Homo sapiens: one gene and its partner. The protein of the gene in region 1 interacts with the protein of each later gene in a biochemical or structural test. Each region holds a gene or a part of one and is shown on either strand. Other genes may lie near its edges.

Evidence for each region.
Region 2: the proteins of NOSIP (region 1) and KPNB1 form a complex in vitro, tested with the Homo sapiens proteins (one study listed by BioGRID).

The regions. Positions count from the first base shown.
Region 1 is NC_000019.10:49,556,527-49,560,542, reverse strand, and holds part of NOSIP (nitric oxide synthase-interacting protein), read left to right. Parts: intron 1-503; coding exon 504-609; intron 610-638; exon of another isoform or gene 639-1,108; intron 1,109-1,193; exon of another isoform or gene 1,194-1,564; coding exon 1,565-1,646; intron 1,647-3,293; coding exon 3,294-3,453; coding exon of another isoform or gene 3,454-3,462; intron 3,463-3,549; coding exon 3,550-3,668; intron 3,669-3,806; coding exon 3,807-3,994; intron 3,995-4,016. UniProt on the Homo sapiens protein: E3 ubiquitin-protein ligase that is essential for proper development of the forebrain, the eye, and the face. Catalyzes monoubiquitination of serine/threonine-protein phosphatase 2A (PP2A) catalytic subunit PPP2CA/PPP2CB.
Region 2 is NC_000017.11:47,680,919-47,683,461, forward strand, and holds part of KPNB1 (importin subunit beta-1), read left to right. Parts: intron 1-1,485; coding exon 1,486-1,486; 3' UTR 1,487-2,543.

The DNA of each region.
Region 1 (4,016 bases):
TCCTCTGTCCCTGTCTCTCTCCCGCCCCCGATATACACTGATGGCCATGACCATGTAAACAACAGCTGGGTGATCCCATGACCCCATGTGGCCCGGCACTGTGTTCTCTGCCTTCTGCGCATGAACTCACTCCTCCCAACAGAGTGTCAGGGAGGGTGCTCTTGTTACCCCATGTTCCAGAGGAAGAAACTGAGGCCCAAAGAGGGACAGGCACTTGAGCTTGGTCACAGTCAGAAGGGTGGAGGGGAGTCAGCCGTCAGCCCCTCCACCAAGCTGCCACTCAGTGACCAGGCCTGTCTGCCTCTCACCCTCCAGGGTTGACAACTCCCTGTGGGTTCAGCCCGTGGCCCCAGCACACAGGCAGCGGCTCCCAACTGCCTGTTTCTCTCTGAGTCCCCCACCCCCACCACCGCGTTGTCTCTGTGCCTCTCTCTGGGGCTTTGGAGACGGACATGTCTCCTGTTGCTCCGCCCCTCCATCACTCTGCCCATCTCTGTCCCCAGCGGCCTCGGGCTATGGGACCCAGAACATTCGACTGAGCCGGGATGCCGTGAAGGACTTCGACTGCTGTTGTCTCTCCCTGCAGCCTTGCCACGATCCTGTTGTCACGTGAGCTGGGAACAGGGATGGGTAGGTCTGGGTGGGGAGAGCAAGGGAACCGCCAGGAGGAGGCTGTGTGCGTGGGTCTGGCCACCTGCACAGCCAGGGAACCCTGGATGAGCAGTTTATCCTCAGAGCCTCTGTATTCTCACATGGGACATGGGCATGATCCTAGCATCTGTTTCATAGTGTGGAACATATGGAAAGGAACATACTTCTAATGGGGTGTAGGGCTCTCAGAGCATTGCCGAGGCCATCGGAGCAGCTCACCTTTGGACACTTCCCATGACCTACCTCTGATGGTAGGGCAAAGGCTTAACAGGTGCTGAGTCCAGGCACTAAATACGTGCTCAATTAGTGGTATATTTTGTAGAAGACAGTAATTAATGATCAGGGCCCCCAAGGCCACCTTCAGGTTTCTTTTTTTTTTTTGAGACAGAGTCTTCACTTTGTTGCCCAGGCTGGAGTGCAATGGGGACATCTTGGCTCACTGATATCCCAGGCTCAGGTGATCCTCCTGCCTCAGCCCCCACGAGTAGCTGGAACCACGGGTGTGCACTACCACACCTGGCGTTTTTGTTTGTTTTTTGTAGAGAGGGGAGCTCACTTTGTTGCCCAGGCTGGTCTCGAACTCGTGGCTGCAACAATATGTGGCACACATTGTTGCTGAGAGAATGAAGCACTTTCCCTGCAGCTCTATTGGGAGAGGACAGCTGGAAGCTCAAATCTAGTCTCTACTAGATTCTGCCCCATGTGCCTTTTTCCTTTGCTGATTTTAATCTGCATCCTTTCACTGCAGTAAACTATCACCATGAGTATAACAGCTTTGCTGAGTTCTGTGAATTCTAGCAAATAATTGAACTTGGGACTGATCATGATGACTTCTGCCTATAATCCCAGCACTTCGGGAGGCCGAGGCGGGAGGATCACTTTCTTTCTTTCTCATTGCACCCTGTCTTTGCAGCCCAGATGGCTACCTGTATGAGCGTGAGGCCATCCTGGAGTACATTCTGCACCAGAAGAAGGAGATTGCCCGGCAGATGAAGGTGATGGGGATGGGGAGGAGGCGGCACACGGAGGCAGGAGCTTTTGAGTCTGAGCTCACAGGCAGAGCCACTCAGAGCCCTCTGATCTCAGTTCCCTCTGCCTGGTACACCATTCCCCTCCCCTGCTTCCGGCCAAATCCTTCTCACCGATTTCAGCCCAGATGCTGCCTCCTCTGAGCTCCTGCCAGTCCCCAGGATCTGCCCCAGTCACCTCTTCTCTTAGCACTTAGCATAGTTGTAGCTGTACATGTGGCTGTCTGACACATGCCCACTTTCCCTTATGGACTTCGAGTTTTCCCACCCTGTAGCTTAGGTCCTTAGTAAAGATATGCTAAATGGGTCGGGGGTGGTGGCTCACACCTGTAATCCCAGGACTTTGGGAGGCCGAGGCAGGCGGATCACTTGAGGTCAACAGTTAGAGGCCAGCCTGGCCAACATGGTGAAACCCTGTCTGTACTAAAAATAAAAAAATAAAAAAAAAAATTGAGCCGGGCATGGCGGGCGCCTGTAATCCCAGCTACTCAGGAAGCTGAGGCAGGAGAATCGCTTGAACCCATGAGGTAGAGGTCGCAGTGAGCTGAGATGGCACCGCTGCACTTCAGCCTGGGTAACCGAGCGAGATTCTGTTTCAAAAAAAAAAAAAAAAAAAAAGATGTGCTACGTGAATTGACATCACCTCATTTTTTCTGGGCCTCAGTTTCATCGTCTGTAAAACGGGCTGACGGCCAAATCAGAGGACACAGCAGGGCACCTGGGAGGTACACGCAGATGAGCATTCTCAAGGCGTGTTACTGGGAACCCGGCCTGGCCTTCCATGGACAAAGCCATTTGATGGGTAGGAGGGGCCCTGTTTGAGGCACAGTGGGTCTGTCCCCCTCTTCCCCTGCCTGGTTGCTGGCGCTCAGGAAACACTACAGGTCACATGCTTATTGGGCTTTTTGTCCCAAGCAGGTGGCTCCCCCTGTGCCCATGTCCTCCACACAGCCTGGTGGTCATGTCGGAGGCCCTCATGAGCATCCATCACTGTCACTGTTACCTCCTCACTCAGCTGGGTGGCCCAGGGTGGTCTGGAACTGCAGCACCGCCCAGGCAACTGCTGTGCGCCAGGCAGGGCTGAGCTCAGGTCATGGCTTCACTTCTCCCGTCCTCACTCACTGTCCGTCCATAGACATGGGCTCCTCAGCATTCCCTTAGATCTGAAGTCTACATCCCCCGTCCCAAACACGGGCTGGGGCATGCACTGTATAGAAAACTTAATTGGCCAGCAGGTGACATTAATTAAATGCTTAGCTGAGTGCCAGGTGAGGCTCTCCATGCTGTAAACACTCACCTTATGTAACCCTTCAGTGAGCCGCTGAGGTGGGTAACCACTGTTAGGCTGTTTTACAGATGAAGAAACTGAGGCCAGGAGAGGTCATAGTGCTCACTTAGGCCACAGAGTGACAGAGATGGGCTTTGAGCCCTGGCAGTCTGGCTATACAACGCAGTAAGGTTCACACCCACCCAGGGTGGCAGTTACCACCCTCTGCCACATAGTGCCTCCATCAGAGGGTCCCCTTTGTGGGCCTCAGTTTACCTACCTGTGAAATGGGAGGAAGATACCCCCAGCCCCACGGGCAGATGCTCAGCCCACTTTCCCCGACGCAGGCCTACGAGAAGCAGCGGGGCACCCGGCGCGAGGAGCAGAAGGAGCTTCAGCGGGCGGCCTCGCAGGACCATGTGCGGGGCTTCCTGGAGAAGGAGTCGGCTATCGTGAGCCGGCCCCTCAACCCTTTCACAGCCAAGGCCCTCTCGGGCACCAGCCCAGGTGACTCAGGTTGGGCTTCTTGTGGGTTGGGGGGCGGGGCGCCGCGGGCTGGGCGGGCCCAGGGGGCGGCATCTGAGTCCCTTCCTTCCCCCACAGATGATGTCCAACCTGGGCCCAGTGTGGGTCCTCCAAGTAAGGACAAGGACAAAGTGCTGCCCAGCTTCTGGATCCCGTCGCTGACGCCCGAAGCCAAGGCCACCAAGCTGGAGAAGCCGGTGAGCCCCCACAGCGCCCCGGCACGCACGGTGCCAGGGCGCCAGGGTTCCCCACCGTCCTCCTCACGCACAGGGACCACGCGCTCTCCACCTGCGCCAGCCCTGCCTACTGAGCCCGCCTCTCTCTGCCCCTTGCAGTCCCGCACGGTGACCTGCCCCATGTCAGGGAAGCCCCTGCGCATGTCGGACCTGACGCCCGTGCACTTCACACCGCTAGACAGCTCCGTGGACCGCGTGGGGCTCATCACCCGCAGCGAGCGCTACGTGTGTGCCGTGACCCGCGACAGCCTGAGCAACGCCACCCCCTGCGCTGTGCTGCGGCCCTCGTGAGTCACCTGGGAGGGGAGG
Region 2 (2,543 bases), on another chromosome or scaffold:
AAAATCATCAGTAATGCCATTTCCCCCTAATTCTCTTCTGTTTTCTATTCCTTTCCTCATGCCCTATTCTTTCTTTACAGCAGTGCTTTTAGACGTTGCCTAGCTCTAGAGAAGATTTCCAAAGTCAAATGTTTTTTTGTGTGTGTGTGTGTGTGTGTGTGTTTTCTTTTTGAGACAGAGTCTCACTGTCGCCCAGGCTGGAGTGCAATGGCACAATCTCGGTTCACTGCAACTGCTGCCTCCTGGGTTTGAGCAATTCTCCTGTCTCAGCCTCCCGAGTAGCTGGGATTACAGTCACATGCCACCACACCCGACTAATTTTCTTTTTTTCTTTTCTTTTCTTCTTCTTTTTTTTTTTTTTTTTCTTTTGGAGACAGTCTCGCTCTGTCGCCCAGGCTGGAGTGCAGTGGTGCGATCTCAGCTTATTGCAACCTCTGCCTCCCGGGTTCAAGCAGTTCTCTGCCTCAGCCTCCTGAGTAGCTAGGATTACAGGTGCCCTACCACCACCACACCTGGCTAATTTTTTTGTATTTTTAGTAGAAACAGGATTTCACCATCTTGGCCAGGCTGGTCTTGACCTCCTGACCTCGTGATCCACCCACCTCGGCCTCCCAAAGTACTGGGATTACAGGCGTAAGCTACCATGCCTGGCCCAGTTTTTGTATTTTTAGTAAAGATGGGGTTTCACCATGTTTGCCAGGCTGGTCTTGAACTCCTGATTTTAGGTGATCCACCCACCTCAGCCTCCTAAATTGCTGGAATTATAGGTTTTTTTTTTTTTTTTTTTTTTTTTGTATTTTTAGTAGAGATGGGTTTTCACCATGTTGGCCAGACTGGTCCTGACCTCAGGTGATCCACCTTTGTCGGTCTCCCAGGTGTGCACCACCACACCAGGCCTTGGCTCCTACTTTGAAATGCAATCTTGTTTGTTTGGAGACAGAGTCTCCTCTGTCACCCAGGCTGGAGTGCAGTGGTACAATCACACCTCATAGAAGCCTCCAGCTCCTGGGCTTAAGTGGCCCTCCTGCCTCAGCCTCCCAGGTGGTTGGGACTGCAGGCAAGCACCTCCATGACTGGCTAATTTTTTTTTATTTTTAGAGACAAGATCTCCTGTTGCCCAGGCTGGGTTTGAACTCCTGACCTCAAGAAGTTCTCCCTCCTTGGCCTCCCAAAGTGCTGAGATTAAAGGCTTGAGCCACTGCACCCAGACTGAAATACAGTTTTAATTTCTTTCACTCTTAATTAGTTATCTTACTCCACAGATCTCAGTAAAATTGGCTCTTTGAGTTTCCCTCGCACCCTCTGATGTAGGTGTTAATAAGAGCAGGTCAATGGCACATAGGACAAGAAGAAAGAGTGTCAATCCTTGAAATGTTGACAAATTCCATTCAGGCCTAGGAGCATGTAATTGTAGGAGTCAGCATTATTGGCTCTGTTGGGTATATGTGATCTCAAAGATTGACCTTTTTTTCCATCTGTTTTCAGATCTGTTACCATTGGGATGATAACCTGAGGACCCCCACTGGAAATCTCCCATCTTTTGAAAAACCTGGAAGTGAGGAGTGTGCACGGATGCTGAATGTTTGGGAATGAGAGGATGAGTGAGTGAGGCTTGAAAACACACCACATTGAAAATCCTGCCACAGCAGCAGCCGCAGCCGCCAACAGCAGCGCTGTTAGTGAGCTAAGTAAGCACTGACTTCGTAGAAAACCATAACATCGGCCATCTTGGAAAAGAGAAAAACAATGGAGTTACTTATTTAAAAAAAAAGAAAGAAAGTTATCTCTTCCCAGGAGAGGCTAGAAGTAGCTTTTCTGTCTTTTGGCCAGTGCCGAGTGGAATGCCTGGTTTGGGGGAGGAGGAGGGACTGGGTTCAGCTGTGGTGCTTTGTTGTAAAAGGCAGCCTGGCCTTTGCTACTGAGGAGAAAGATGGAGCCTGGGTCTCAAGCCCACCTTCGCTGTACCTTTGCCACATGGTACTGTATGCTTGCCAGCTAGAAGGAGGGTCAGGGATTTTTTACAGTCTGAGAATGAGTGTGTGTGAGTGAGGCGGTATCCACATTCTCAACTTCAAGTCATTGCAGTTTCTTTTTCCCAGAAAACAAGGGGTTAGATGTTGCATTTCATAAAACTAACCGAAGTTTTGTTTACTGATGCAGCACAAGAGATGTAAAAAAAAAAAAAAAAAAAAAAAAAAAAACACACACACAGAGGAAAGACGCTCTTTAGGTTTTGTTTTGTTTTTTTTTTTTGGTTTTGTTTTTTGTTTTTTTTACTCTAGGGAAAACACTGACGAATGGTCAGAGCTCCTATCCTGATCTTTTCATCAAGGCGCCTTTCCTAATAATATGGTTCAACTGTGAATGTAGAAGTGGGGGGGAGGGGGGAGAAAAAGAAAACTCTGGCGTTAGAGGATATAGAAAAATATAAGTACAATTGTTACAAATAACGCAGACTTCAAAAACAAAAAAATCACAACCCAAACAAACCAAAATTTAAATGATCAGAATTGGCAGCACAAAGAAAACGCCCTCTCCTGACT